4 linked regions of the Homo sapiens genome follow. The protein of the gene in region 1 binds, or shares a complex with, the protein of each later gene. Each region holds a gene or a part of one and is shown in the gene's direction. Other genes may lie near its edges. The genes, in order: PBRM1, SMARCB1, ARID2 and SMARCD1.

Region 1 (8,102 bases):
CAAATAATTTAGCCAGCTCTCCAAATTCTCCTTTGGTACCAGATCTGATAGCAATTAGAAATAAGACATTTGCGGCCAGGCACGGTGGCTCACGCCTGTAATCCCAGCACTTTGGGAGGCCGAGACAGGCGGATCACGAGTTCAGGAGATCAAGACCATCCTGGCTAACACGATAAAACCCCGTCTCTACTAAAAATACAAAAAAATTAGCTGGGCGTGGTGGTGGGCACCTGTAGTCCCAGCTACTCGGGAGGCTGAGGCAGGAGAACGGCGTGAACCCGGGAGGTGGAGCTTGCAGTGAGCTGAGATGGCGCCACTGCACTCCAGCCTGGGTGACACAGCAAGCCTCCATCTCAAAAAGAAAAAAAGAAAAAGACATTTGCTCCAATGTGGCTATTTTGTTGAGATGCATTTGCAAAATCTGGCAACTATAGATTTTACTCTGGTTTACATTTTCCCAGTCCTTTCAAAAGGATTTAACTAGAAAATCAGGGCAGGGTAAGCTCCCCTACCATACTGCCCGTATCTTAACAGAGCTCAGCATCTGCACTTCTCTATTTCAATTCCCCTTGTATTGCTCACTTGAAAACTTCAGGACAGACTCAACGTCTGGATTACAACCCTACTAACCCTAGAGCTATGTTTCCAGAATTTACCTTTAGCTAGCAGCCAATTGTTTCTTCATTTTTGAGACGAAGTGTTGTTGCCCAGGCTGGAGTGCAGTGGCACAGTATCGGCTCACTGCAACCTCCGCCTCCCGGGTTCAAGCAATTCTCCTGCCTCAGCCTTCCGAGTAGCTGGGACTACAAGTGCCCATCATCATGCCCGGCTAATATTTGTATTTTAGTAGAGATGGGGTTTCGCCGTGTTGGCCAGGCTTTTCTCGAACTCCTGGCCTCAAGTGATGTGCCCACTTCAGCCTCCCAAGCAGCCAATTGTTTCTTAACCCCAACAACAATTTTAGATCTCATTCCCATTTTCTGCTTTGTAATTCTCTGTTCTGGGTTTTCTTTTTCCTGCTGCTCAAACTCAGATGCATAATTATGCATTTCATTTAAATATTTTGTCACATACGTTCCAATTTATTTCACTCTTGAACTAATACCCGACATTGTGTAGGTGTGGGGAATTTGTCACACTGTCATCACTTCCTAGATGAAATATACTACACAATAAGCTGGGTATAGCAGCTTACACTCTTTATTTAAAAGATGGTAAATACTGAATGGCAAAAGAATAGTAGAAACCAGTTGAGTCAGTTGTAAAAGTCACCTGGCTCCCCACTGCCTAGCACTGTCTCTGGCAAAGTGCACGTACTCTGGCTTTGCTGAGATCAGAGTTGGATCTAATCAGTCTTCAGTGACTATCAGACTGTTTCCTCGTACCTCACCCATGTACACAGAAGACAAAGGGTACCCTCTTTACTCACCTGATTTATTTAATATAAGTACCAGCTTTTTCTGTCCACTCTGGACAATGGCCTCTTCTACCTGAGGACATCTGCAACCAAGAGGATCTCTGGCATCCAACACCTCTAGGACAACATCGGAGGCTTCAATCACCTATCAAGGAAAAAATGACCAGAACTACATTATCAAGGAGAAAATGATCAGAACTACATCCCTTGTTCTGGTAATACCTTCCACAAGAGAGTACTGGCATTATCCATTTAGCAACAGGGTGAGCTCAGAGTTGGATCTCATGTCTTCACTTTGGTATGAAGAATGTTGACCCTCATCATTTCTCACACAGGAAAGTAAAACATAGGCTTGCTCAGCAGTCTCTGATCAAGATGGATTTCAAAAATGCAAATATCCCTGTCTGAATCCTCCCATAGTGAATTATATAGTTTGATAGGTCCTTCTGGCCTTGCCAAAAGCTGCTGAGGGGCAGTCAGGTTCTATCCATGGGGGAGTGAGCTTGGGAAAATGGATGTTGGGGATGGGAGTGCTGGAGAGCAACTACACCAAGTTGTCCTCCTTCACTTAGGTTTCAACAGAGTACTTTAGAGACCTTTAGCCTGACACTGCTTACTCCAATGTACCTTTCTCAATCTCAACACTATGTCAACGTTTTTTTTTAATGTTGTAAATCATGCTTACAGGCAGAACCAGTTTTGTGCAAATATTTAGAACCAAAGAAACTATTTCCGTCAGGTAAACATAGCAGGAAAGGCATTAAACAGCATAAGCTAGAGTCGAGTCACGAAATGATTTGTTGGTGAAAAGGTGGGAGGAGGGAGAGGATCAGGAAAGATAACTAATGTCGTACTAGGCTTAATACCTGGGTGATGAAATAATCTGTACAGCAAACCCCTATGACGCAAGTTTACCCATATAACAAACCTGCACATGCACCCTTCATCTTAAAAGGTTAAAAAAAAAATGACTTGAGTCTTTTAAACCTCATTACTACTGTCAGACACTGACCTAGGCTAAGATACCTTTTTAAGTTCTTGGCAGTACAGCTTCTTTGAATTCTGTTTGCCCGACTTGGCTTTGTTCTCAGTTTTGCAAAGCCCAAACTCCTAGAGGATAAAGGGGGAAATAACACAAAATTAGAAGTAGAGCAACTGTAACCTCTAACTCCATTTTCCACAGCTGAGTAGCAGCCCTTGCAGTTGTTAAATAGGTAAGATGGAGTCTGAACTCAGTTGTCTTCCTCCCAAGAAGCTCAGCAGCCTGTGGATGTGCTTTTATTTCTGCATCAGAACTCATCTCTCAGCCAGGCACAACAGCCCACACCTGTAATACCAGAAACTTCGGGAGGCTGAGTTGGGTGGATCACTTGAGACCAGCCTTGGCAATATAGTGAAAGCCCGTGTCTGCTAAAAAAAATTAGCCAGGCGTGATGGTGTGCTTCTGTAGTCCCAGCTACTTGGAGACTGAGGTGGTAAGACTGCTTGAGCCTGGGTGGTCCAGGTTGCAGTGAGTTGTGATTGTGCCACTGCACTCAGGCCCAAGCAAAAAAACCAAAATCAAAACCCCTGATCTCTCATTCATAAAGAGACCTAATCATACCTTTTCCATAGGTTCCACATTTGATGGCTTAATATCAGGATTAGTTTCAAGTTTTCTTTTCTTTTCTAGTTCCTTCTGCCTGTCAAGTTTCTGCTGCTGTTTTAGTTCTTCAAGCTGTCAGAGCCATAAGGGAAATAGGTGAACCAGTGACTAGTGTTGTTACCTTACTCTGAAAAATATCACACATAACACACTACACCACTCAATGAAAATTCTGGCTAACATAACTTACCCTCTGTTTCCTTAGCTCAGCTTCCCTAAGAAGAGCCTCCTTAAAGGGAGCACTGTTTGGAACTCCTGGGTCTTTCCTAGGCTTCTTGTGACCCCGCTTTTTAGCCTCCTTTCTTAATTTTCGATGATGTTCTCGAACCTATTAAAATAAAGAGATTTTGTCTGCTTACAAAAATATCTTTATACTTAAGCAGAATTCAAGTGAGAAACCAATCTGGCTGCAATTTAGTTATGCCTATAAAATGTCCTAGGAAAATGGAGCTTTAATTGGAATCTTACAAAGTAATGCATATGTAAGTATAAAACAGCAAGAAATTGTAACTAGAAGGCTCTCTATGCAGAGATTAACATGCTGAACAAATTTAGAGACTTATCACCAAATCACTGCACTTTCTCACAGCTGCACTCCTGATGCCTAAGAGCTTGTGCCCATGGTCAGTCTATCCAATGCCATTTCCCAAAACCAAATCACATTAACCCAGACTTTCCCGCAAAGGAACAGGGCAAAATCAGTTTAGCAATGTGTTTGGTACAGCTCTCTCAAGCACTACACTTACCTTTTTTTGGATTTTATACCGCTTATGGCAGGTCATGCGTTTACTTGCTTTCTTTAACTCTACAAAGAAACACATCACAAATCTGTTAACCCAAATGATTAGTTCTGGGTTAACGCACTATGGAGTTATATCCTTTTCTTGTGTTATTGGCTACCAAACCTAACGTTAAGTCTAATGCGAAATGCCTAATGCAAACATACGTGCTACTTTCAAATCCCAGAGAATTAAATTCAGTAGATCCAGAATGGAGTCAAAATTCCCTGCACTTACCCTCACAATATTAGAATGGGATCATACACAACAGCGTATGAGACACAAAACGACAACCACTTCGTGTCAAACAGCACGAATCATAAGGCAGGAGAGGAACACTGAGTCTGGGAGGCGATTCTCAGCTCTCACCTGGGCCAGTCTGCACGTGGCCACGGAAAGAAAATATTGGGCCTCAAACCTGGCTCAGACGCTGCTTCCTTACGAAAATCTAGCCTAGTCTTCCCCACCCTCTGCCCGGCTTCGTTCCGCAGAATGAGCCCGCGCGGTTAACATGATCGCCGTAGGGACTTCCAACTCTCGGTTCTACCAGGAAATAGGGCCAAGGCCTACGCGTAGGCTCCCACCCCCATACCAGCAGAGACAAAGCCGTAGCCGTAGAAGAGCGTCGTGGTGGCTGCAGCAACTTCCAGACGTGGGTCCCTCCACGCCCGCCTCCCGACCCCACTTACTAGGCCTTTTCATATTGGCTGTAGAAGGAAGCACAAACACATCAACCTGCCTCCGCTGGCGCCACGTGTGAACTGAAGCCACTGACGAGCGTCACGCACTTACGCTGCCGCCGTAAAGTGCGTCACCGCCTCTCTGCGTGCGCGGGCACGCAGTGTCGCGCGGAGCAGGGATCGCTTGGCGGCCGCGGGACTGGTTTTGCGGCGGCACCGGGAGGGGTAAGGGAGGTGAGGGCGGCGGGTGCCGAAGCGACGGCAGCGGCCGCGGCCGGAGGAGCAATAGCAGCAGCCGTGGCGGCCACGGGGCGGGGCGCGGCGGTCGGTGACCGCGGCCGGGGCTGCAGGCGGCGGAGCGGCTGGGTAAGGCCGGGCCCAGGGCGGGTGGGGCCGCTCCCCCTTGGTCAGCTGCCGGGCCTTTGTGTGGGCCCGGGCGGGCGGGAGCCGCGGCGGAAGCCCCGCCCCGGCCGTGGGGACGCGCGGGTCGGGCCGGGCGCGCGGGGTTGGGCGGGGCGCGGCGGCTGGCCTCCGGATGGGCCCAGTAGCCTTGTCGCACCTGCCGGCAGGGACAAAGGCGCACTACGGGTCGGAAACTCCCCGCGCTCCTCTTTCCCGCTCGTCGCGGGGCAGCTTCAAAGCTGTCAACGTTTCCCTCAGTCCCCAATACCAGTGACAGGTCGGGAAAGTCCTTCATTTCCTCCGTTGCTCAGGGCCTCTTTTTTTTGTTGTGGTTTCTTGACGGTTCGACACAAACTCTTAGTGATTTTCTTTCCGTATTTTTTCCGGGTATTTTAATCAATGGGACTTGTATTTATAGTAGAGGCCAGATATTTCAGCTTCTCAACACCACAAAGAATCCGGGATTTTGGGAACTGTGTATATTTCTTGGTTTGGGGAAGCACAGTTTTGTTATTATAATAAGTTTTAATTTAAAGGGGAAGAAAGAGTTGCAAAAATATAGAAAAAGCCCTGAAAAATAAGTACACGGTATAGTGGATATAGAAATTCTTACAATAATTATAGAAGCGTATGTTGGGGTGAATTGTTTTAATTAACTTACTTTCCAACACAGGATTCTTGACAAATAATTTTAGGTATTATTTTTTTCTCCATTTGGCTATGTGCTTTTCCCCAAAAAGTGCAAATTGGACTCATGCACATAAAAGAGTAGCATAATTTTTGCTTTATTACTTACAGGTCGCCCATATTTGATTTTGAGCTCCAAAATGGAAGATTGGAAAATATGTTTTGAAGAGGTGTTTCAAATTAAAACAATAAAGAGTTTATGTGTGGATGAATGGAAGGGCCTTGACCGCTTTCTTTGGCTTTGGGAATGTACAAAATACCTCAAATGTTAATATCCTACCAAAATTCCCAAGATAAGTAAATTGTGGTGTATCTATATGATAGATTACTATCAAGTCATCAAACATCATGAGGAAGAATGTTGACTTGGAAGAACCTTCACTAAAACACAGGCTGTAGAATAATATATGTGGTTTGTTAACATTTTGGTAAAAAATAATAGGTAACTAAGGCATAAATACCAAAAACCGAATGACAACGTTAAGAGTGGTTTTTTTCTTGGAAGTAGGTTTATAGGTGTTTTTTTTCCTTTGAGTCCTGTTTTCCAAGATTTTGTTTTAAACATGTATTGTATTGCTAAATATTACTAGAAATATAGGAGAGGGCTAAAGTTCATAAACGGTCGAAATACACTGTTTGTCTATAGTAAGTCGATATTCTCCCAGTTGCACATTATTAAGTATTCTTAACTGTCCACTATAAATTATTGATTGTTAGACTTTTGAACTTGTAACTGTAATCAAGGCCATTTTAAAACTTGGCATTGAACTCTGGAATCTGTCTTTCCTCTTCATGGAAAGACAAAATTGCTGAAGGGATGCTTACAGGCATTTTTTTTTTTTTTTTTTTTTTTTTTTTGAGACAAGGTCTGACTTTGTTGCCCAGGCTGGAGTTCAGTAAAGTGATCATGGCTCACTGAAGCCTTGTGCTCCTAGGCTCAAGCAGTCCTCTCACCTCAGCATCCCAAGTAGCTGGGATTACTGATGTGCAGCACCACACCCAGCTAATTTTAATTTTTGTAGAGAAAAGATCAATCTATGTTATCCAGTCTGGTCTTGAACTCTCTGCCTCAAGCGGTCATCCTGCCTCAGCCTCTCCAAGTGCTGGGACTACAGATATGAGCCCCTGTGCCTGGCTGAGGACTTTTAAACTATACAAATAAACTTTTTTTTTTGAAGGTCTCAAGTGCACTTTTTTTTTGTTTTTTTTGGAGACAGTCTTACTCTGTCCCCCAGCCTGGAGTGCAGTGGCGCAATCCCAGCTCACTGCAATCTCTGCCTCTCTGGTTCAAGCAATTCTCGTGCCTCACCCTCTCGAGTGCCTGGGATTACAGGTGCATGCCACCACCTTGCCTAGATAATTTTTTGTATTTTTGATAGAGACGGGGTTTCACCGTGTTGGCCAGGCTGGTCTTGAACTCCTGACCTCAGGTGATCTGCCCACCTCAGCCTCCTAAATTGCTGGGATTACAGGCATGAGCCACTGTGCCTGGCCCTAAGTGCACTTTTAATACATTTATTAAAAGATAAACTGAGCACATAACCTATACCAAATACTATCCTGTAAGACAGGTCTACAAAAATGAATATGCTGTTCCTGTGCCTGGGGAACATGCAGAAGTGATTTCACTTTATGTTGTTTTTTTTTTTTTCTTGAGACGGTCTCGCTCTGTCACCCAGACTGGAGTGCAGTGGTATGATCTCGGCTTGCTGCAACCTCTGCCTCCTGGGTTCAAGCAATTCTCATGCTTCAGCCTCCCAAGTAACTGGGTTTACAGGCATGCACTGCCTCAGCCAGCTAATTTTTTTTTTTATTATTTTTTTGAGACAGAGTCTTGCTCTGACGTCCAGGGTGGAGTGCAGTGGTGCCATCTCGGCTCACTGCAACCTCCGCCTCCCGGGTTCAAGCGATTCTCCTGCCTCAGTCTCCCAAGTAGCTGGGATTACAGGTGCGTGCCACCAAGCCCAGCCAATTTTTTTTGTATTTTTAGTGGAGACGGGGTTTCACCGTGTTAGCCAGGATGGTCTTGATCTCCTGACCTCAGGTGATCCATCCGCCTTAGCCTCCCAAAGCGCTGGGATTACAGACATGAGCCACCGCACCCAGCTAAATTTTTGTATTTTTCTTTAGTAGAGACAGGGTTTCACCACGTTGGCCAGTCTGGTCTCGAACTCCAAGTGATGCACTGGCCTCGGCCTTCCAAAGTGCTGGGATTACAGGCATGACCCACCACTCCCGGCATTACGTTCTTATTTTAGAGATGAAACAGATCTGAGAGGTTACATCAACTAATCAGACAACATCAAGCTGATAATCAGAGGTGGAAGACTTAGGACTCCTATTCTGGTCTTAGGAGCAAAGGTCCTGTTGTTTCTCCCACCTTATAACATTGCCCTTCTTGTCAGACTTTCAAAATACATTTTAAAATGTGTCCCATGGATAAGAAAATACTTGAAAATTATCCTTAAGTTGAAACTTTTTCTTATCTTACC
Region 2 (8,230 bases), on another chromosome or scaffold:
CTCAGGTGCCCCCGGGGTCACTTCAGGGCCTCCCGAGGGTGACTGTGCTGGGCCCTGAGCCAGAGCCCCTCATGGCAGACAGGGTTGTGGGGTCAGCCTTGTTTTGGGGATGGGGAACTGGAAGGACAAGGACCACCTGCAGTTCTCAGCTGGTGGACCCTGGTGGGCAGGGCCCACCCCAGGCCTGGCAGGGCCCCGCTCCTCGCGGCCTCCCTGGGCTGCAAAAGCTCTAACTTGTGTCCTTTGGTTGTTGCCTCAGCTGAACATCCATGTGGGAAACATTTCCCTGGTGGACCAGTTTGAGTGGGACATGTCAGAGAAGGAGAACTCACCAGAGAAGTTTGCCCTGAAGCTGTGCTCGGAGCTGGGGTTGGGCGGGGAGTTTGTCACCACCATCGCATACAGCATCCGGGGACAGCTGAGCTGGCATCAGAAGACCTACGCCTTCAGGTAGGATCATGCATGAGTCTCTCCCTCCCTCATCTCCCTGCAAAACTGTTTTGAGAAAGACTTCTCTGTGTGAGCGGTGATACCTTTGAGGCTTTCTCACGCTTCGCAGCACAATCTGGCTGGGGTCTGTGTGTTTGCTCCGTCCTCCTCCTGCCCTATGTATCTCTCCAGGGCTCCGCTGTGCCAGGTAGGGTTAGAAGCACCTAACACAATAGCTGGCAAAGACTTGGAGTTCTGTCAGGGTGAACCTCAAGTCCTTGCCTCCACGGAGCCCTGGCCTGCCCCCACCATCCACCATTCAGTTGTCCTGCCCCACACCCTCTCTCTCTGCTCTTGCCCAGACTGTTATTTTGGTCAGGGTGACCCCTGCCCAGGGTTCTTCATCTGTTGAACTTGAATTATGTCTTAAACACAAAGGCCCGCCCAGCTTTTGAGAGTCAGGGGTCCCTAGCAGCTCCTTCTTACTCTAGTATCTCTGCCTTTGGTCAGTCAGAGAGCATTTGATGAGTACCATGCTGGGCTGGACCCCATCCTGGCTGCCCTGGAAGATAGAGACAGGTCACCTTGATCCCTGCCTGTAGCATTTGGGCTGGCTGAGATGGTGGAAGTGTGAACAGAATATTCCAGTCCAGTGTCCTCTGTGGTAGGGATGGGGATGGACCCGGGAGAGGCCCTCCTGTTCCTGGCAGGAGGTGGGACTCAGAGTTAAAAGTGAGGTCAAGGCCCAGTGCGATGGCTCACACCTGCAGTCCTAGCACTTCGCGGAGCTGAGGTGGATCACCAGAACCCAGTAGTTCAAGACCAGCCTGGGAAAAACATGGTGAGACCCCACCTCTACAAAAAAAAAAAAATAGAAAAAATGAGCCGGGCATGTTGGTACATGCCTGTAGTTTCAGCTACTCAGGAAGCTGAGGTGGGAGGATCGCCTGAGCTCAAGAGGTGGAGGCTGCAGTGAGCCAAGATCACACCACTGCACTCCAGCCTGGGTGACAGAGCGAGACCCTGTCTCCAAAAAAAAAAAAAAAAATAGCGAGGTTGAACTCTCCCGGCTCAGCAGGACTCTAGGACTGGGAAGCCCCGTGGTTCCTCACCCTGTCCTCTGTGTTGGGATGGGGTGGGGGTGCAGCAAGCATCCCTACATCAAAACAGGATGTTCAGATTTAGTCTGCTCATCAGACTATCATCATCCACATCTGCAGTCATCACTCAGGGATGACAGCTTAAAATGCTACATGAGGAGCAAATAGGAAGGTCTGTTTTGCAAAGCCATGACAATTAATGGAGCTCGTTAGGTTTGTGTCTAACTTGTTTTCCCAGACATCCCAAGAGACAGCTTTCTATGACTTCCCATAAATCTGAGCAAGGAAGAAGGAATGAGAGCCACCCACGGGGCTCAAGGGCCCGGGCCTGGGAAACAGCTGAGTCCCTGCCTGAGCGCCATGGTGCTGAGATCCTGTGACCTGCCCCCCAGCAGCCCTGCCAGTCACATGGTTCTGCTTCACAGACAGGGCAGCCCAGAGAGGAGGCTGGGGGGCTGGTGTCTGATGCCTCCCTGTTCCCTCGGGGTGTTGCCTGGGAGTGCAGCTGTAGCGTGCATTCACCCTGCACAGAGCCAAGCCCTATGGCCGGAGAGCCAGTCAAGGGTGGCCTCCCTCCACCAGAGTTGACTCTGAGGCCCCGGGAGGCAGTCATGTTGCGCGCATCAACACTGAGCACCTCCTCCCGCAGAGGCTGATCCAGTCAGAACCCTCGTCTTGGGCTCACAGGTGCAGGTGGTAGGCTGGCTGCCCCCAGCATCCAGCCCCTACGGTGTTGACCTTCACCTAGTCCTGCAGCCGCTGCCAGTGCCCACAGTCCAGGGTCAGGAACTGAAGTCCCCGGGGCCTCTTGACAGGTCCTTGCAACATCCCTTCTTTCAGCCACCATGGCACCATCCCTCCTGCTCTGACCCGAAGGTGACCTGAGCCTAAATTCCTTTCCAAGTTCCGGGCCCTCTGCAGTTTGCAGAGTGGCTCCAGAGCAGACCCCCTGGGGAGTCCCTGGTGGTGGCAGGTCAGGATTTAGAGGCAGAGGCGGGCCCCTTCTTTATCTCATCGACCACTTAGTGCATTCCAGTTGCAGGGCCTGGGGGCATCACAGACCCCCTGCCCCCTGCTCTCTCTTATGCTGAGAATGCAGGTTTCAAATCTTTGGGGTTAAAGGCAAAGGCCATCCCGCTGGGACCAAGGTGAGCACACGTCCCTATCACAGCAGCCAGATGGAGAGGCGGCCTGCCTGGGGAACTGGGAAGTGTCCTGAGTGGGCTTTTAGCATCAGGAGGGCTGCGTGTGTCTTCCCAGTCCCCACACTGGAAGACAGCTGCAAGGATAGGACAGGGCCTTAGGGTTGGGCTGTCATCCCTGACTCCAACTCGCGTTCCCCCCACTGTACCACCCCACCCCATGGGATCTTAGGAGGGACTTCGTTTAACTCTGTCCCCAGGGAGACCAGTGTCAGTCCTGCCTGGCCCTGCCTGGGGAAAGGAGGCTGGGCCACTGAGTCCCCAGGTCCAGGGGCCAGTCAGCCCACAGAGAGCTAGACCAGGAGTCCTGGCCTGGTCTCTGCCACACAGAAAGCTTGGCAACTGCTGTGTCACATGACTTTTTGTTTTGTTTTGAGATGGGGTCTCGCTCTGTCGCCCAGGCTGGAGTGCAGTGGCGTGATCTCGGCTCACTGCAAGCTCTGCCTCCTGGGTTCACGCCATTCTCCTGCCTCAGGCTCCTGAGTAGATGGGACTACAGGTGCCCGCCACCACGCCCAGCTAATTTTTGTGTTTTTAGTAGAGACGGGGTTTCACCGTATTAGCTAGGATGGTCTGGATCTCCTGACCTTGTGATCCACCCATCTCGGCCTCCCAAAGTGCTGGGATTACAGGCGTGAGCCACCGCGCTCGGCCACATGACTTCTTAAGAAGGGTTTTCAGGCTAGGCATGGTGGCTCACGCCTGTAATCCCAGCACTTTGGGAGGCCGAGGTGGGCGGATCACCTGAGGTCAGGAGTTAGAGACAGGCCAACATGGCAAAACCCCGTCTCTACTAGAAGTAGAAAAATTAGCCAGGTGTGGTGGTGGGCACCCGTAATCCCAGCTACTCGGGAGGCTGAGGCAGGAGAATTGCTTGAACCCGTGAGGCGGAGATTGCAGTGAGCTGAGATTGCACCATTGTGCTCCAGCCCGACAGAGCTAGACTCCATCTCAAAAAAAAGGGTTTTCAGCTCTGGACCTAGGTCACTCCATAATGGAAGCACTCGCTGATTCCCCAAGAGCCAGTCCCTCCATCTCTCCCAGCCAGAGCTCAGTGCCTGACTTCCATACCCTCCTCGGCAGTGGGGACATTGATTGGATCCATGGTACAGTGGGGCAAGCTGCTGGCCACAGGACATGTGTGTGCAAGGCCACTATGCCCACACCTCAGGGGAACCAGGGCAGAGAACAGCCTGTTCCCTTTGGCAGTGGGACAGACAGGAGACAAGCATGAAGGGGAAACAGGGGCATGTGACAAACTGGTCAGAAGCCCTAGGCTCCTAGAGGACAGACTGGGACCAGAGTGACACAGGCGTCCCAGAGCCAGTGGAGTGGGATGAAGGGCCAGCGAAAGGAGGGAGACAGGGCTCAAGGGGAAGGAGGCTGGGCTAGGCAGAGCCTCTGAGGAGAGCTGATCCTGCAAAGTTACTGGCACCTCCCCTGGGCCAGCCCTGTGTTCCTGGCCAGGGACGGGAGGAGACAGTGCCCTGTCTGGCAGAGGAAACAGATTCATGTGCATGACTATCAGTGTGCCATGGCCACAGAAAGCACCGGAGGCTGTGGGCATGAGGAAGGGCAGTTGGGGGCATAGAACCTGGGGTGAGGATGGCCAGGGCAGGTGCTGATGGGGGACTGCAGCAGGAAGGACCGAGAGGAGACCAGGGACAGGCAGGTGCTTGAGAAGGAAGGTGGGCCCTGTGGATCAGGCAGGGTATCTGCCCCAGGGGGCTCTGCACACCAGCAGTCCTACACGTACAGGGTGGGGATGAAAAGAGACTAAGGGTCAGGGAGCTTGGTAGCTGGGCCTGCATGAGGGACAGAGAGGCAGTGTCCCTCTGATGGCACAGCATCAGGAATTAGGCTGGGGTATGTCAGGTACACGTTGGGCTGGTTGAGCGTAAGCCTCAGGTTCCTTCCGAAGCTCTGCCCGCCAGCCCTGGCCTGATGTCAGGTTTTGTTTGTTTTTTTAACAGCTTTATTGTGATATAATTCATAAACCATACAATTCACACATTTAGAGTATATAGTGCAGCGGTTTTTGATATATGCAGAGAGCTGTGTAACTATCACCACTGTCAATTTTAGGACTTTTTCATCACCCCACTGCAGGCAGTCCCGTTCCTCCCCGCTGTCTCTCAGCCCTAGGTGTCCACTCATCCACTTTCTATCTGTAGATTTGCCTATTCCGGGTACTTCATAGAAATGGAACCATCTAATATGTGGTCTTTTATGACTGGCTTGTTAGCATAATGTTTTCAAGGATTATCCATGTTGTAGCATCTTTTATCAGGACTTCATTCTTTTTTATGATTGAATATTATCTCATTGCATGGATATACCACATTTTATTCATTCATCAGCAGATTGACTTTTGGGTTGTTTCCATTTTTCAGCTATTGTGAGTACTGCTGCTGAGAACATTTGTGTATGAGTTTTTGTGTGAACATCTGTTTTCAATTTTCTTGGATATATACCCAGGAGTAGAATTGCTGGGTCACGTGACAACTCAGTGGTTAGCATTTTGAAGAATTTCTAGACTGTTTTCCAAAGTGGCTGCACCATTTTGCATTCCCACCAGAAGCGTGCGATTCCCGTTTCTCTGGATCCTGCTGGCATTTGCTGTTCTCTTTTTGATCGTAGCCGTCTGAGGAGGTGTGAAGTAATTGTGGTTTTGATTTGCATTTTTCTAATGACTGATGATATTGAGCATCTTTGCATGTATTTCTGGCTGTTTGTGTATCTTCTTTGGAGAAAGTGCTTTGCTAGTTTCTTAATTGGGTTTTATTTTATTGTTGAGTTGTAATTGTTCTTTATATATTCTACATAGAAGTCCCTCATCAGATAGATACATGATTTGAAGATATTTTCTCTCATTTGGAGGATTGCCTTTTCACTTTCTTGATAGTGTTCTTTGAAGCACAAAAGTTTTCATTTTGATGTAGTCCAATTTATCTTTTTTTTTTTTTTTTTTTTTTTTTTTTTTTTTGAGACAGTCTCGCTGTGTCACCAGGCTGGAGTGTAGTGCTGTGATCTTGGCTCACTGCATCCTCCGCCTCCTGAGTTCAAGTGATTCTCCTACCTCAGCCTCCCAAGTAGCTGGGACTACAGGCACCTGCCACCACACCCAGCTAATTTTTTGTTTTTAGTAGAGACGGGGTTTCACCATGTTGGCCAGGATGGTCTCCATCTCTTGACCTCATAATCCGCCCGCCTCGGCCTCCCAAAGTGCTGGGATTACAGGTGTGAGCCACTGCACCAGGCCTGTAATTTATATATTGTTTTAGTTTGTTGCTAGTGCTTTTGGTTTCATATCTAAGAATCCATTGTCAATCCAGAGTCATGTTGCCCCAGCACCATGTTGAAAACTGCTCTTCCTCCATTGAGTGGACTTGGCACCCTTCTAAAAATCATTTGAGGCTCCTGGCGGCCTCGGAGGTGTGAATTGCAAACATAAGGGTGACACCAAGTTTTGGCATCTCCCCTTCCTGGTCGAGTGGCTGTGGACAGGTCATTTTCCCTTGAAGTCTGTATTTTGTCATTTGTAACTTGGGGATAATACTTGTGTGTTGCATCACATGAGGTCATGAAAGTGAGATCACATTGAAAGTAAACCTCAAGATACTCGACCGGCATCAGTCCTGGCTCCCTCTGTCCCTCAGACGTGAGCATCCCCTGCCTGGGTATCTTTGTCCCCACCTGGACACTTTGGGTGGTAGGAAGGTCTGGGGTCCCTGGCGGCTTCGAAGCCCGTGAACCAGAATTCCCTGGAAGGAATGGGGAGCAGGGTGGCTCCCAGGGTCCCCAGCACTCTTTGGAACTCAGGACAGCATCTCCATGCCCACATGCCCCCAAAACCCAAGGCAGGCTAGTGCTGGCTCTAGGCCCGTTCTTACATGGTTGGTGCGAGCATTTCTTACTTTAGAACAAACCCACTGGAGTGGAATATTCCCAGCATCAAGGGGAGGTAAACAAAGGACCCTCTGGGACCCACTCGCCAGCTCTTGTTTAAGAGGAAAACATGTTTTGCTCCCCTCGTTGTGGGCTTGGTACCTTTCACGTCTGCCCTCCAAGGAAGGCTGCTGGGAGCCCTCACGGTGAGGAATGATGTTTGGGGTCTGAGGCTAGGGTGGTCCCTAGACTGCTAAACCACCCGGTGCTGGCCAGGGACCAGCTGTCAGGAGCTGCTGAGGATGGGTCAGCCCCAGAGGGTGGGGGTGCCGACATTGCCTCTGGCCCTGCCTCTGCGTCACCAGTACGAGCTTGAGCTTCTGCGACTCATGAGCATGGACCTGGTGGGCTGAGCTTCAGCTGTGAGGGGTCAGGCCTGCTGCAGGGAGAGCCAGCTGCAGCCAGTGCCCTGCGCTGTGCCCACAGTCCCTGAGACCCCAGGCTGAGGAGAGCAGCACTGAGCCCAACCTGGAACGGGCTCACGGCTACTGGAGCTGGGTGTGTGCTCACTGGTGTGGATGTGCAGAGCCGGGACTCGCTCTGCAAGCAGGCTGGTCCCACAACCTTGAGCCACCCACTACAGGGAGGCTGTGAGAAGGTCCCTGGCCCCTAGGAAGCTCCCTCAGTGGAGATGTTTTGGCTGCTTTAATAACAGTCATCCTTCCAAAGCCCTTCACAGCAATAAATGTTTCCATATTCCAGATGAGGTTTGCAGGGACCTGTCCTCTCTATCAGTGTCCACCTGGCGCCTCCCCCGAGTCCGGCCTGCCCTTGCTTCTCCCAGAGCTCATGGTGTTTTTCAGGGCCGCAGGCTGGCAGGGTGTCCTTCTCCCAGGGGACTGAGCCTAGGGAGAGCCAAGTGGAGGTGCCCAAGTGGAGGAGAAAGGAAAGGACCACAGAGAGGGGAGGGGAAGTGGGAGAGTCATGGTTAGGACCTCAGGCTGAGGCCTTCTGCCAAGCCAGGGGTCTGGTGTCACTCAACTGGGAAACACTGTCAGCACCCAAAGCTGCTCTCAGAGGTGGGGGTGACGGGACCACTGCATGTGGGAGGCACACGGGCCCTGTGGCATCCACAGCTGTGGTCTCCTTAGTGTCCTGTCACAGACTTGCAAATCAAAGCCCAGAGAGGCGGCAGCCAGCCACCCTCCCACCTCCCCAGCACTCCTGTGCCCACCCCATGCCTGTTTAGCCTCTGCCCTTGCTGCCCCCTTCCTCTGCTGTGTCCTTTTGGCAAGAGGAAGGTACCTCGGGGCAGATTTGGGTGGTCCTTGTGAGACCCAGGGCAGAGTGTGGTCCGGGGATACGGCTTCTGTCCAGCTCCCTGCCAGACAGCTGTCTGATCCTAAGCACAGACCAGCCTCTCGGGGGTTTTGTTCGGCCAGGAGGTGGGCTGAGGGGCAAGTGTGTGGAACATGCAGGAACAGGCTGTGCAGTGGCCCTCAGTAGTGGGGGGCTGGGGACTTCTGGGAGACTCCTTTGCTCCCATTCGCCATCCATCCCCTTTCCCTGATCAGTGGGCCCTGGCTCTGGACACTGAGTGGAGCAGACAGT
Region 3 (8,286 bases), on another chromosome or scaffold:
AGCGTTTTTTTTTTTGCCTCTAGTTTTTCTTCTAGGAATACTTTCATACTGTAATTTATCATGATGCTGTGTTTTATTTTTAAAGTGCTTATCTTAGAGGATCCTAAGTTAGTTGGTGTTATTAAAAACTAAAATGATATTCTTTGTATTTATTGCTTTTTAATAGTGATAGTACAGGCCTTTTTTTGTAAGGTGGCTTCTGCATAATTTGAGTTTTGCATTTATTATTGCTTCAGATGCACTCAGTTATTGTGTATTACGTTCAGCATTCTGAAATAGGAAATGCAGTAATCGCACAGGTGTACTTTCTATTGGCTATCTTAGATTGACTTCAGGCTTGAAGCTGGAGTTCGCAGAACTTTGTGGAGTAGTTATTGAGTTACACAGGAAGTCTAGAAAATATTAAATATGGTTGTCATCTATTGTGTGTGTGTGATGGCATTTGTGTCAGAGTACATTTTAAATTAAAGGGCTAAATCAAAAAGCAAAATTAACCTCCAAAACCGTTGAGTTAGTAGTGGGGTGAGAAACAAGAGAGTTTTATATTCATCGTGACATTCATTTGCTCATTTCTATTTATGATATTGAGAGGAACATGTTAATACATATTCTGGTTTTATGTTTTTATCAGTTTAAAGCATTTGAATTTTGGACTGTTTGAAATACATATTTTTGAAGTTTTGCTTCATATTTGTTAGATTGATTGACTTAAGTTTTATAACCAGAAAGTACTATAGAATATACATGATTCATGAGATGTATATTTTTCTGAAGAGTTTACATTCATACTAATAGTTTTAGCATAATCAAATTAATATCTAGGCTTCCAATTTTTTTTAACAAAAGTTAATTATAAATATTGTTTTTCCAGTTGTCATTTTTATCTTGGGAGGATATCATTAATTATAGGTACTGTTTTTAACTATATAGTTTCAACATTGTAAGTATTTACATGGTCTTCAGATCAAATTGGGCTTTTTGCTCTTATTAGAAGCTGCTTTTTGAACTATGTCCTTAGTTAAACTTGTTTTTCCTCCATATGTCACTCTCTAGGTTTGTTTTTGCAGGGTTGTAGCTAGGCTACTAGGAAAAAAGTTGAAGCATTTGTTTTGGAAAATAAAACCATGTGAAGATTTGCATGGCTTGTAAAGAAATACAAAAGAAATATGCTGGTCAAAACTTAGGTACTACCAACCTTGAAAGAATTTTTTCCTGGTGGTCTAATATTGCACAGTAAGAGGATATATATGATGCTAGCTTTTACACCTTCCTCTGAAAAATCTTAATTGGCAGACAAGATGCCAAGTAACAGCAATTCTATTACCTACCCATAAGATTGGCTCTTCATAGTAAGAAATAGTAATCGAGTGACTTGATAAGTTACCTCTTTGCTACGTCAGATTGAATATCATCATTACTGATGAGCAGATAATGCAGTGTGTTTTTTAAATTACAAGTGGAATAATTTTTTAATATGAACTGCTTTTTCATTTGACCTATTGTAAGACTGTCATTATATGTGTTATTCCTCCTTTACAAGTTTAATATTTGCTCACATTCCCCTGTAAGTTTGCTATTAATTGGATGGATGGCTGTTAGCCTAGTGTTTTATGATATATCTTCATAATATTACAGATAATTTAAATTAGGAAGAGCAAGCTAGTATGCTGGCCATGTATATTTTAATAGTGTTTTGTTATTTTTGATACAAATATTGACAGTCATTAAATATAGACTTGAGTATTAATGGTCTGCCAGACATTAACTTAATTTTCTCAAATATACATTTATTCAGTTATAGCTTGTCTACAAAAATTTCTTAGAGTCTAAAATTGAAAATGCAATTGATTATTTTAACATTGGCATTTAATTTTTACAAATATAAGTGCCTGCCTGTATCAAAGTTTCTCACCTACTCCAGAAATATATACACGTACTGTGTACCCACAAAAATTAAAAATTAAAAAAAAGTAAAGTGCTTACAGATAATGTGTAAAAGCAGTCTATTTAAAAATTGGAGGCCAGGTGCGGTGGCTCACGCCTGTAATCTCAGCACTTTGGGAGGCCGAGGCAGACGGATTACCTGAGGTCAGGAGTTTGAGACCAGCCTGGCCAACATGGTGAAACCCCGTGTCTACCAAAAATAGAAAAATTAGCCTGGCATGGTGGCTCATGCCTGTAATCCCAGCTACTTGGGAGGCTGATGCAGGAGAACTGCTTGAGCCCGGGAGTCGGAGGTTGCAGTGAGCGGAGATCGTGCTACTGCACTCTAGTCTGGCCGACAGAGTGAGACTCTTTCTCAAAAAAATAAAATAAAATAAAATAAATAAATTAAAAATTGGATACTAATCATCTGTGATGTTTATGCACTTTATTTTCATGTAGTTCCTTTTCTTGGCATGTACATCTCAATGTGTTCCACCAATGTTTATTATTAGGATATTCCTATAGTATGAAAGGATAAGGTATAGTTTCCCACATTTTGTAGATGGAGATATTAAAGTGCAAAAAAAAAAAAAATTAAATGGCTTAGGGAACATTTCATTAATTGGACCAAAATGTTGTGTTCATGACGTGTTCAATAATATTTGGAAATTACTTATGGTTAAATTTATGCCCAAGTATCTCTTTGCCTAATGTGTTCCATATTTACTTGGTGGATTTTAATTTTTTGTTCTGTTTTGTTGTTGAAATTGGGGGACAGTTTGCTGGTCTTATCTGGGTTAAGAATTTGAAGTTTTGGTATGAAGATTTAGGTAAATATTTCAAATATTTTAAAATTTTGTTTTTGCTTACTGATGCCAATATTACAGCTATAGTCAAGGTTAACTTGATGTTTCCTTTATAAAACTTGATTTTTTTGGAAAGGGGGTGAAATATCTTGGACATTAAAAATTTATTGTACAAAACTATATGTTACTAGTTTTCTGGCACTGAAATATTCATTTCTATTTATATGTACCTACCTTTAGAATAGTCAGAAACTTAATTGTAGAGTTATGTTTACCATAGTACATTTTCAATCGCATTGTGAATTTATTCTATTTTTTTTTTCTTGGTGGGTAAAGCTCTTTCTTAAATTACACCATTTGAGGGAGTTTACATTTGTTAGTTAAATTGAATGAATACACTCATGTGTTCTCTAGTTAGTGTCCACCATATAGATCAATTCTTTTAAGAGAAAGCCTTAGGTATATAAGCACTGAGTTTGTAAATTGCTAAACGGAACTGAATAAACTGATTGCCCTTCTTATTCAAGGAAGGAAAATAAAAGTATATGGAGATTGGAAGACAAATATATCAATAAGTTATTCATGCATGTATTTCAAATTTAACTTTATAAACTGTATCGTGTGTGTGTGTGTGTGTGTGTGTGTGTGTGTGTGTGTGTGTAGACAGGGGTCTTGCTTTGTTGCCCATGCTTGTCTTGAATGCCTGGCTTCAAGGTATCCTCCCGCCTCAGCCTTCCAAAGTGCTGGGATACAAAAGTGAGCCACTGTGCCTCAGCCTTCCAAAGTGCTCGGATACAAAAGTGAGCCACTGAGCCTGGCAGTGTATCCATTTTAAAAAACAAAAAACCTGATTTTGATATTTTCTGATATTCTGTTACGTTTTTAAAGGACATGCAGACTTGTTGAAAGGAAGAGCAGAAAGTGGAGAAAGTTGAAAGACTTATCAAAGCTCAGCTAGGTTAGTGTTATGTCTTAGAATCCATGTTTTTAGAGCTTAAATTGCCCAAAGTAGAAATAAATTGAGTTCTTTCTAAGACAGATAGTTTTCACTGAGGTTACAAATTTTCCTGAGGATACAAAATGAGAACATTATAATTCCCAAAAATGTTTATATGCTTTTTTTTTGCAGTTAAATTTTCTACCTTAGCTGTTAACTAAAAATGTCCCTGAATAGAAGCACTCTTTCATAATCCTATCTCTGCTTTGTTGTGGATTCAGTATTTTCATAGTTGATCGTGTGAAATCTATAACGTCTTTGATAGACAAGTATATTGTGGCCGGGCGTGGTGGCTCACGCCCTGTAATCCCAACACTTTGGGAGGCCAAGGCAGGCGAATCACAAGGTCAGGAGACCAAGACCAGTCTGGCTAACACAGTGAAACCCTGTCTCTACTAAAAATACAAAAAATTAGCTAGGCGTGGTGGCATGCACCTGTAGTCCCAGCTACTCGGGAGGCTGAGGCAGGAGAATCACTTGAACTCGGGAGGCGGAGCTTGCAGTGAGCCGAGATCGTGCCACTGCACTCCAGCCTGGGTGACAGAGCGAGACTCCGTCTGAAAAAAAAAAAAAAAGTATATTGCTACTAGATATTTTATATTCTCAAACTGAATGAAATTAGAAGTTGGAAAGGAAGGAAAAACACAGTTTTAACTGCATTTCATTAGTCAGTGAGCAGGTACTTAATATATATTTTTAGGTAAAGTATTTAAAAGTTTTAATTATATTGTGAAGGTGCTTATTGGGTGTTTTCCAGACCTACTAAAGTTTAATGATAAAAATGGATTTTGTCTGAATTGGGAAGGACATAGAGGATAAATGGAGCAGACGGATGGGGTTGAGGGGATTCTCCTTTTGCTGCTTTGATCACCACAGTCTTTGGTATTCAGGGCCAACTAGAGTTTGTACTCTAGAAACACTAGTTTTCCAGAAATGTTAATATATTTCCATGAAAAGAAGACGAAATGAACTTGAGCAAAAGGCTAAACTTGGGTTACTTTATTGCAGGACTTCTTAGAGACTTTATTTTGCTAATGTGTATTGTGGATCTCTAGACATTTTGGGGAAACATTACTACTTCTCTTCCCTTCCCCATAGTAAATAGTGTTTCACCAGTGTTTCACCCCACAGTAAATAGTGTAACACCATCGCCAAAACTGCAATTACTTGTGCACCAACCTAAGAGATGCACAACTATACATTTTCTACTGTTTAAACTATAATGTGATAAAAGAAATAACAAACTTTTTTCTGTTTTAAAACATAAATTTCACTTGTGCTTGGATACTTTCTGTGTATTCATTATGTTGTGAATTGATAATTCATTTGACTAAATACATTGCAATAAACTATTGCTGGAATGGAAGTCTCTTAGTGATGTCCAGGAATAGCTATCACATTCTGAATTGTTGACCAAAAATGATAGACCCATATTCCATGAATATCTAAGTCAGCGTTTACAGGGCTTCACTCCCATCTTACTGCCATAGAAATTTTTGGTGGAGCCCCAGGGAGAATGTGCTGGTTTTGATGTTTTGGCTGCTGCCTTCCCTCTCCCCCCGCCCTTTTTTTCCCCATTATACCATTGATTTGGAGTAAAGGGGTCAATTTGTTCTTTAGACTGTCTTAAATTCTGGCTTTGATTGCTTTCTTTTGGTGTCAATTAACTTGTTCCTCTATCCCTCATACATATTTGCTGAAAAGTGATAGATCTAAAGGTTAATAATATTCAGATTTAATATTTTAGGCATACTTGATAGGTACTGCTGTGCTTTTCATCATATCATGAGGCATATAATGTTTAGTTGTCCCCTTTTAGTGATGCTAAGATTGAACAGTGGTTTTAGGTATTAATAATTTGATTAATATGTATTTCCAAAAAGTGCTCCAGGTGATTCTTAAGTACACTGAAGTTTGAGAACAGTTGATCTAAGTATTGTAATGAAACCAATTTAGTTGCTGAGATGACTAGTTTAACATGGCATGAACATATTGGTCAGGGTTACATCCAGAACAAAACCTCCAGGTGACATCTGGTCTAGGGGCACCTGCTCAAGCTGCACCTGTCATCTCTGACCACAGCTTGGACACACTTATACTTTGTCTCTGGACTCTAGAGAAGGTAACAAGGGCTCCACTTTAGTTAAGGGAAAAAAAGAGTAAATGAACTACCAAATTCTAACTTATCCTAAGTGTGTTTATGTAATTTGGATTAAAAAAATTAATTAAAAATAAGTGTTCCTCACTTATTCCTAATTGGAGAACTTTCTTTACATATATGTATGGTTTTTTTTTCTCATAGAACTTTACTATATTCTTTCCAAATGGGGTACCATTTGTTTTACTGAATTTACTGGATGCTTGTTTGTGAAAATTTTGTTGGTCTGTCCTGGTATTTCGTAGTAGAGTTAACATGTATAAATTCCTGTGAAAGTAATAATACTAACAATAACCTGTTTTGTTTAATGTCCACCAGCTTTGTTTTTCAAAACATTTTCATATGGGAGATTTTATTTATTTATTTTTATTTATTTTTGAGACGGAGTTGCTCTCTGTCACTCAGGCTGGAGTGCAGTGGCATGATCTTGGCTCACTGCAACCTTCACCTCCTGGGTTCCAGTGATTCTCCTGCCTCAGTCTCCCAGGTAGCTGGAATTACAGGCGTGTGCCACCATACCCGGCTAATTTTTGTATTTTAGTAGAGATGGGGTTTCAGTTGGCCAAGCTGGTCTACAAACTCCTGATCTCAGGTGATCCACCCATCTTGACCTCCCAAAGTGTTGGGATTACAGGCATGAGCCACTGCACCCGGCTGGCCGGAGATTTTATTTTTATCATTTCAAATTTGAGAAGTAATTGTGTTATTTAATCTTAGAAAAAATAACAACTAGGAAAAATATTCTTTCTTTTTTTATGTATAAAAGCAAGGGAAAAAATTCTTTATGCCACCCAAACTTTTTTCTTCCTGGGGCATATGGGCTACTTTTTTTTTTTTTTTTTTTTTTTTTTTTTTTTTTAAGGCTTTAGGTTATATCCAACTCCCAGCCTTAAGTGTCAGCCACAGTTGCTAGTCAGGAAAGGATATTTTACATATTTTCAGACCCTACTTTCCCTGCTTCACCTTCCCATTCCCTTCCCTGCTGATAGACCTGCTGTACATTTTACAGAGTGTTGTCTTTTTTTTTCTTTTTGAGACAGTTTCGCTCTTGTTACCCAGGCTAGAGTGCAGTGGTGTGATCTTGGCTCACTGCAGCCTCCACCTCTTGGGTTCAAGTGATTCTCCTGCCTCAGCCTCCCAAGTAGCTGGGATGATAGGTGCCCGCCACCATGCCCAGCTAATTATTTTGTTTTTTTGCTTTTTTAGTAGAAATGGGGTTTCACCATGTTGGCCAGGGTGGTCTCAAACTCCTGACCTCAGGTGATTCACCTGCTTTGGCCTCCCAAAGTGCTGAGATTACAGGCGTGAGCCACTGCGCCCGGCCAGAGCATTGTCTTAATTGTCTTATAGATAATCCTACATTATCCATAGTTGCTATTCATCTTATGCAGGTATATTCCATGTTCCAGGTGTGCTTGGCTTTTATTTGTATCAGTAAATAATTTTTAAAACTACCATATAATTGGGATAAAATATAAAGTTACTTTTTTTTTTTTTTTTTTTTTTTTGAGACAGCGTCTGGCTCTGTCGCCCAGGCTGGAGTGCAGAAAGTTACTTTTTATGAAGAATTCAAATAAAGTTGTGTAATCTATTGTTTGGATAAACATCTTATTGTAAAATATGGCCAGGTTTCATAATTCTGGTCTTTCTGAGTTCTTACTGTCATACTTGATAAGTATTTATATATAGTGGCCAGTAGTCAATTGCTGTGTGCACAAAGATGATCTTTATTAAATAATACGTATCTTTCATGGTGAAGTGTTTTTGGGTGAAATTTTATTCTGTCTCTATGCTAGCCCAGCGATTAATTTTAAATAAATAAAATGTTAATATAAACATACATGAGATCAGTGGGAACATTCTTCTATTACAATAGGTCAAGGAAGAGACCATAGCTAGGGCCCTGTCCAGAAAATACCTAATTTGTAATATTTTAAAAATGGGATGAATTTAACTTTTTCAGTAGTAAGGCTCAGGTTGATCACACTTTCCATAATGGTTCATAGATTAAGTGAATTTGCAATACGCTTGAGCTCAGATCAGACCACATAGAACTTCATAAACAGTAGTTAGTGGCTTAGAGTAACTTGTACCTCCCAGTGTGCTTGCAAATAATAGGTAGTCTATCAAGAGTTCTTAAGTGGTTTGGTATAATTTGTAGTTTACACCATTAAAGAGTCAAACTTTTGAATTTCTGAGTTGTCTTTTTAGGTAGCCTCATATTGCAATGTAGTAATTCAATCTAGTAGTAAAAATATATGTGATTTTTGATATAGTCCAGTTGAGAGAGAAATGGTGAATCCATTATTTTCTTCTTTTTTTGCCATGTTTTTCCTTTTCAAAATTGTTAAATTTCTTTTGCTATCTATATGTGAACTTTTGCTTACACTTCCTGTAGA
Region 4 (7,152 bases), on another chromosome or scaffold:
CACCAGCCCCTATCACAGCTTCAAGGCCTCCTTTTGATTCTTAGTGTTCATTCAAAATACGGTGACACCCAGTATATGTCAGGTACTGTGCTTGGTGCTGGTTTGAGCCAGACTCAAATGAATTCTGATTGTGGGGATACTCTCAACAGCACTGAGCCTCGGTTTCTGATTTGTGGAATAGAGACCATAGTACCTTTTTTTTCCTTTTTTCTTTTCAGGAGTCTCGCTCTCTCGCCCAGGCTGGAGTGCAGTGGTGCAATCCCGCCTCACGGCAACCTCCACTTCCTGGGTTCAAGCGATTCTCCTGCCTCAGCCTCCCAAGTAGCTGGGATTACAGTCACCCACCATCACACCCGGCTGATTTTTGTATTTTTAGTAGAGACGAGGTTTCACCATGTTGGCCAGGCTGGTCTCCAACTCCTGACCTCAAGTGATCTGCCCGCCTCAGCCTCCCAAAGTACTGGGATTACAGGCGTGAGCCACCACGCCCAGCCCATAGTACCTATTTTAATCAGGTTGCTATGACGATTAAATGAGGGAGTGTGTGTAAAGACTTGAGACTGTATCTGGCACATAAAAACAACAAATGGTAACTTCTGCTACTATTATTGTTATCTGGGTTGTTATTACTAGACGCAGTCCTTGCAAATAAAGCCAAAAGTGCTTTGGGAACATGAAGGAGAAAGGGAGGCTTTGCTGGAAGAGTTGATGCCCCAACTAAATCTTTTCTTTTTTTTTTTTGAGATGGAGTCTTGCTCTGCCGCTCAGGCTGGAGTGCAATGGCATGATCTTGGCTCACTACGACCTCCGCCTCCTGGGTTCAAGCAATTCTCCTGTCTCAGCCTCCTGAGTAGCTGGGACTACAGGCACCTGCCACTACGCCCGGCTAATTTTTGTATTTTTAGTAGAGACGGAGTTTCACCATATTGGTCAGGCTGGTCTTGAACTCCTGACCTCAGGTGATCCACCCGCTTCGGCCTCCCAAAGTGCTGGGATCACAGGCGTGAGCCACCGCGCCCGGCCCCAACTAAATCTTGAAGGACAAAGTGGGTGTTAATGAAAGGGCAAAAAGGATAGTAGTGCTGGGGGCATAGGAGGCAGAAGACGTTCCAGAAAGAGGGAATAGGGCATGTAAAGGTCCAGAGAAGAGAGAGAGAGCCTGGTGTCTTAAAGAAGTACGAGCCATTTAGTATGCTAGATGCAGCATAGAGTGCCGAGGACGGGATGTTTTGGGAAGGAAAGCTAGATAGGGAGCCAGATGCCTAATTATGAAGAACCTTTGATTCAGGGAAAACTGGTTTATGTTTCATCCCGAAGACTGTGTAAGACAGCTGGTTGAGAGATCATTACCAGTGGAGGGACTGATGCTATTTGTATATAGAATGATCACTTGCAGGAAGGTGGATGGAGAATAATTTGTCAAGAGGGCAGGGCTGGAGGCAGGAAGCCCAGTTAGGAGGCTGGTGCAGTAATCCATGTGAGACGTGTTGAGGCCCTAAATTTACAGTCCCGACAGTGAGGGTGGAGATAAGTAGATAGATTTGAGAGGTGTCAAGGTGGAATTGAAGGAATTTGGCCACTGTTTGGATTATTAGAGTGAGGGATGAATGAGAAGGAAATGTTATGATGCCTCCCAGGTCTCTAGCTTGGGTGGACAGTAGTATTTACTATGACTGGGAAGAGGGGAGGAGGAGGAGCAGGTATTGGAGAAACGGTAGTGAGTTTAATGTCAAGTTTAAGCAGTTGGATTGGTTGGAGTATAGAAGATAGACTCTGGGCTGCAGACTGGGGACTCATTACCCTGTCACTGGTAATGGAAGATATACAAGTCAAAGAAATTGCCGGGAGGAGTATGCAGAATGAGAAGAGAGTTGAGAACAAAACCCAGAGATGAGAGCTTATGAGACAGCCCCATATGCCAGTCCTTTTCTTCCTGAGAACACTTTTGGACCCATTTGTGCTGTGGAGTAAGTATTCATCATGTAGCTTTGCCCATAGTGGGCAATGTGGAGACCAAAAGGAAAGCTTTCCTCACATGGGGTATACAGAGAGACAGAAACAAGGGCAAATTACTTGCTGAAAGAATGCCAAGGGTCGGAGCAGTTGGAGCTCTATATGATGGTGCCAGCTGTGGGCAGCATGGTGACTAGGTTGGAAGTGGCATGTGGAGTTGTCAGGCACCACCTGCCATTTAACTTCTCATTTTTCTAGTTTGAAAATGGTATGAGCTTCGTTCTTCCTTTCAGATCCATGAGACAATAGAAACCATCAACCAGCTGAAGACTCAGCGGGAGTTCATGCTGAGCTTTGCCAGAGACCCTCAGGGTTTCATCAATGACTGGCTTCAGTCCCAGTGCAGGGACCTCAAGGTAAAGAACCTAGGAGAGGTCTGAAGGGACTTAGGTCAGTGAGGTGCACAGCTGCTTTATTCATGTAGCAGCTGGTAGGAGACCCAGAGGAAGGAGTGAGGGGCCAGATTTTTCTTTAGCATGTTCCAGGGTCCATTTTGCAATTAAGCAGGGAAATGGGGGCAGAGCCATCAAGTGTTGATTTAGTGCTTACTTTGTCTGTCACTGTGCTTCATCTTGTCAGGGATACAGAGTGGAAGACCTGATCTCTGCTTTCAAAGCAGCCTACATTCTGTCTGAAGAAACTAGGCTAGTATAGCCGGGCATGGTGGCTCACACCTGTAATCCCAGCACTTTGGGAGGCCGAGGCCGACGGATCGCTTGAGGTCAGGAGTTTGAGACCAGCCTGGCCAACATGGCGAAACCCCGTCTCCACTAAAAATACAAAAACTTAGCTGGGCGTGGTGGTGCGCGCCTGTAATCCCAGCTACTTGGGAGGCTAAGGCAGGAGAATTGCTTGAACCCAGGAAGCAGAGGTTGCAGTGAGCCAAGATCGTGCCGCTGCACTCCAGCCTGGGTGACAGAGCGAAACTCTGTCTCAAAAAAAAGAAACTAGGCTAGTATGATACAAAGTAGTAAACCACATAAGACATTATCAGGCCAGGTGCGGTGGCTCACGCCTGTAATCCCAGCACTTTGGGAGGCTGAGGAGGGCAGATCACCTGAGGTCAGGAGTTTGAGACTAGCCTGGCCAACATGGTGAAACCCCATCTCTACTAAAATAAAAAAATCAGCCAGGCGTGGTGGCGGGTGCCTGTAATCCCAGCTACCCAGGAGGCTGAGGCAGGAGAATCGCTTGAACCTGGGAGGTAGAGGCTGCAGTGAGCCGAGATTGCGCCACTGCACTCCCAGCCTGGCTGACAGAGTGAGACTCCATCTCAAAAAAAAAAAAAAAAAAAAAGACATTATTAGACTGACCAGGACCAATAAGATGATTCAGATAAGGGAGATCAGTGAGACTAGAATCTCTGGGGAAGGCTTCATGGAAAATTTGGGATTTGAAGACGTTCCCAGAAAGGGGAGCACAGTAAGCTCAGACAAGAAGATAGGAATGGGCACAGAGTATGAACTCATCCGTTGTCACCCCTCCTGTGCTGACTGTGACGAGTTAGAGAGGCTGAGCAGAGGAGCAAGGAAAAAGGGATGCCAGGAAAGATCCCTGAACAAGGCAACGACTTGTTGATTGCAGAGGTGACTGGGTGTTGTATCAGTTTGCTGAGGCTGCTGTAGCAAACTACCACAAACTGGGCAGTTTCAAACAACAGGCTTGTCTCACAGTTGTGGAGGCTGGAAGTCCAAAATCAGTGTGGGCAGCACTGCTTCCTTCCGCGAGCTGGGAGGGAGACTCTGTTCTGTGCATCTCTCAGCTTCTGGTACCTCAGGCATTCCTTGGCTTGTAGGTGGTGGTCTCTGTGTGACTTCACGTTGTCTTCCTTCTGTATGTGTCTGTCTCCATGTCTAAATTTCCCCTCTTTATAAGGGAACCTACCGGTCATATTAGGGGGTACTCTAATGACCTCATCTTAACTTGAGCATCTGTAGAGACCCTATTTCCAAATAAGGTCACATTCACAGGTACTAGGGGTTGGTTAGACTTCAACATTTTGGGGAAGGATACAATTTACCCAATAATGGGTGTGAAGGAAGGAAACAAGCCTTTTCTCCTCTCTCTTCCTCCACCCTGCATCTCCATTTCCCTCAGACAATGACTGATGTGGTGGGTAACCCAGAGGAGGAGCGCCGAGCTGAGTTCTACTTCCAGCCCTGGGCTCAGGAGGCTGTGTGCCGATACTTCTACTCCAAGGTAAGTACATGGGGTGCACGGGGGAAATTGACAAAAGGCACGGGGTTTTCACCCCTGATGGGGGTCAGTGGTGTTAGATACCAACTTCTGGTTTGTCTCATCTTCCACTCCCTTCACTATTTTCTCCTTAGGTGCAGCAGAGACGACAAGAATTAGAGCAAGCCCTGGGAATCCGGAATACATAGGGCCTCTCCCACAGCCCTGATTCGACTGCACCAATTCTTGATTTGGGCCCTGTGCTGCCTGCCTCATAGTATCTGCCTTGGTCTTGCTTGGGGCGTTCCAGGGGATGCTGTTGGTTCAAGGACAACACCAGAATGAAGAGGGTCTCACAAGACACCTGTTATCCTCTTCTTTCACCCTATCTCTTCCCACCCCCAGCTTCCCTTTGCCCCACAAAGTTCCCATGTGCCTGTACCCTCCCCTGGTCTACATAGGACCTCTAGATAGTGTTAGAGAGAGAACATGTAGTGGTAATGAGTGCTTGGAATGGATTGGGCCTCAGGCCAGGTGGTCTTCAAGGGGACCAGCTAACTGATCCTGCCCTTCAGAGACCCAGGAGTTGGGAGCTTTCGCTCCTTCTCCAAGACTCAGGCCTGTGGGCACTCTATAAGCTAGTTGATCTTGGCTCTCCTGATAACAGAATCCAATTTCCTTCCTTCCCTCCACAGGTTTGGAACAAACTCTCCCTTCACTTGTTGCCCTGTAGCACTACAGAAACCCTGGTTCTTGGGCTCCACTGAGCCCCAGGTCAGTCCCCAGCCCTCTGGGTTGGCCTGCTGTCAGTGCTTCTCTCACTCCTTAGTTGGGGTCCACATCAGTATTGGAGTTTTGTTCTTTATTGCTCCCTCCCAGACACTCCCTGTGGCTGCCCTTTGTGATTCCCTCAGATCTGCCCTAATCCCGGGCATTTGGGTGGGGGAATCTTGCCTTTCCCTTTCAGAGCCCCAGGGATCTCATCTGGGGAACTGTCATTGCCAGCAGAGGCTGTTCCTTCCTGCTGTTTGGAGATGTGACTCATTCATTCACTCACTCCACCCTGCCTCTGCATCCCTTAATGGAGAAACGGGCCTAAAACCAAACGGGTAAAAAGCCCTGGGCCATCCCTGTCTTCCTGTCCCTTGTCTGCCCAGTTGACACCTACTGGTGACTTCTAGGGCACTGAGGAGTGAAAGCGCCTAGGGCTGGAGAATAGCGCTGAGTTGGGTTTGTGACTCTTCCCTCTCCCTGCCTCACAGGATTGTGACTCCCCAGCCCCTGCCCTCAAAGCTTCAGACCCCTCAGGTAGCAGCAGGACCTTGTGATCTTGGCCCCTTGGATCTGAGATGGTTTTTGCATCTTTCCAGGAGAGCCTCACATTCTTCTTCCAGGTTGTATCACCCCCGAGTTAGCATATCCCAGGCTCGCAGACTCAACACAGCAAGGGTGGGAGACAGCTGGGCACAAAGGGGGAATTCCGTTCAGCATGGGCTCTAAACCCACAGAACTGACAAAGCCCCTGCTTCCCCACCCCCTCCTCAGGCTCCTGCGAGCACACCCCCACCCCCAAATCCCTCCCTGTTCTACACTGGGGACAGCAGAATTTTCTCCCCGTCTTCCCCTTCCTGCCATTTTCCCTCCCTTGAAAGGTTGACACTGGACAACCTTGGGGCAGCTGAGCCCTGGCCGCCTCCTGGCTGGAACCATGAGAAGGAAGCTCAGTACTTCCCACAGTGTCCCTGTTGATAACTGTTTTTATTAACTGAATTGTTTTTTTCATGGACCAAACTTTTTTTTGTACTGTCCCCTTATTGATGTTACCCAGTTTTAATAAAAGAATCTTCTGAAGGATGGGTCCTCCTACCTACTGTGAGAGAGCTCTTCCCTGAGCTCTTCTTCCTTCAATACCATTAGCCACGCTTGTAGTGTTTGTTCATTTTATTTGACAAGTATTTATTGAGCACCTGCTATGTGCTAGTTGTGATGCTAGACACGGGAGATAAAGTGGAAAATGAGATTTCTACTTTTGTGGACCTCAGGGTCTTACCTTAAGAGATTGCTGTCTGCCCCAGTGGTCCAAGCAGCCTAGTTGCTGGTTGGGATTATTGGGCTTCACCACTGGATCTTAAGAGCCCTTTCCCGACTTGCTAGGCAGGTACTAACAGGTTGGTGGCAGTCATTTTCCCCCTTGTCCATCTGAGCTCCCCAGAGCACTTGTTGGCTGGAGTGAGCCATAGATGCCCGTGATCCCTTAGGTTTGACGAACCTGAGCCGCCTTTGGAGGAGTTTCACTTCTTCCCCAGGGCTTCTGTTTAGATGTGGGCAGGATCTGGACGACCAAAGACATTTTTGCTTTTTGTGCCTGCTACTCTTTTTTTTTTTTTTTTTTTAGACGGAGTCTCACTGTTGCCCAGGCTGGAGTGCAGTAGCGCGATCTTGGCTCACTGCAAGCTCTGCCTCCTGGGTTCACGCCATTCTCCTGCCTCAGCCTCCCGAGTAGCTGGGACTACAGGCGCCTGCCACCATGCCCGGCTAATTTTTTGTATTTTTTAGTAGAGACAGGGTTTCACCGTGTTAGCCAGGATGGTCTCGATCTCCTGACCTCGTGATCCGCCCGCCTCGGTCTCCCAAAGTGCTGGGATTACAGGTGTGAACCACCGTGCCCAGCCTGTGCCTGCTACTCTAAGGTTCCGCTTTCATGGTTCAAATAAGAGTTCAGTTTTTGTTTGCCTGTTTTGAGATGGAGTTGTGTTCTTGTTCCCCAGGCTGGAGTGCAATGGCGCGTTCTCGGCTTACTGCAACCTCCGCCTCCCAGGTTCAAGTGATTTTCCTGCCTCAGCCTCCTGAGTAGCTGGTTCTTAAGAGCACCATGGAAGTTCTGTGTTGTCATCCTCATACTGTAGACAACTAGCCCCTCCTTGGCAGAGTTTGGAAGACAGCTCAGGAGGGATTCCCATTAGC

What was found.
Region 2: PBRM1 (region 1) and SMARCB1 share a complex: the UniProt entries of both Homo sapiens proteins name them as parts of the SWI/SNF-B (PBAF) chromatin remodeling complex.
Region 3: PBRM1 (region 1) and ARID2 share a complex: the UniProt entries of both Homo sapiens proteins name them as parts of the SWI/SNF-B (PBAF) chromatin remodeling complex.
Region 4: PBRM1 (region 1) and SMARCD1 share a complex: the UniProt entries of both Homo sapiens proteins name them as parts of the SWI/SNF-B (PBAF) chromatin remodeling complex.

What each region holds. Positions count from the first base shown.
Region 1 is NC_000003.12:52,682,534-52,690,635, reverse strand, and holds the start of PBRM1 (protein polybromo-1), read left to right. Parts: upstream 1-4,722; 5' UTR 4,723-4,887; intron 4,888-5,036; exon of another isoform or gene 5,037-5,200; intron 5,201-5,721; exon of another isoform or gene 5,722-8,102. Other genes in the region: GNL3 (guanine nucleotide-binding protein-like 3), read right to left, coding at 1-44, 1,430-1,562, 2,444-2,527, 3,021-3,134, 3,253-3,390, 3,809-3,867, 4,531-4,543. UniProt on the Homo sapiens protein: Involved in transcriptional activation and repression of select genes by chromatin remodeling (alteration of DNA-nucleosome topology). Required for the stability of the SWI/SNF chromatin remodeling complex SWI/SNF-B (PBAF).
Region 2 is NC_000022.11:23,824,966-23,833,195, forward strand, and holds part of SMARCB1 (SWI/SNF-related matrix-associated actin-dependent regulator of chromatin subfamily B member 1), read left to right. Parts: intron 1-259; coding exon 260-450; intron 451-8,230.
Region 3 is NC_000012.12:45,732,068-45,740,353, forward strand, and holds part of ARID2 (AT-rich interactive domain-containing protein 2), read left to right. Parts: intron 1-8,286. UniProt on the Homo sapiens protein: Involved in transcriptional activation and repression of select genes by chromatin remodeling (alteration of DNA-nucleosome topology). Required for the stability of the SWI/SNF chromatin remodeling complex SWI/SNF-B (PBAF).
Region 4 is NC_000012.12:50,094,604-50,101,755, forward strand, and holds the end of SMARCD1 (SWI/SNF-related matrix-associated actin-dependent regulator of chromatin subfamily D member 1), read left to right. Parts: intron 1-2,246; coding exon 2,247-2,369; intron 2,370-4,110; coding exon 4,111-4,212; intron 4,213-4,343; coding exon 4,344-4,397; 3' UTR 4,398-6,104; downstream 6,105-7,152. UniProt on the Homo sapiens protein: Involved in transcriptional activation and repression of select genes by chromatin remodeling (alteration of DNA-nucleosome topology).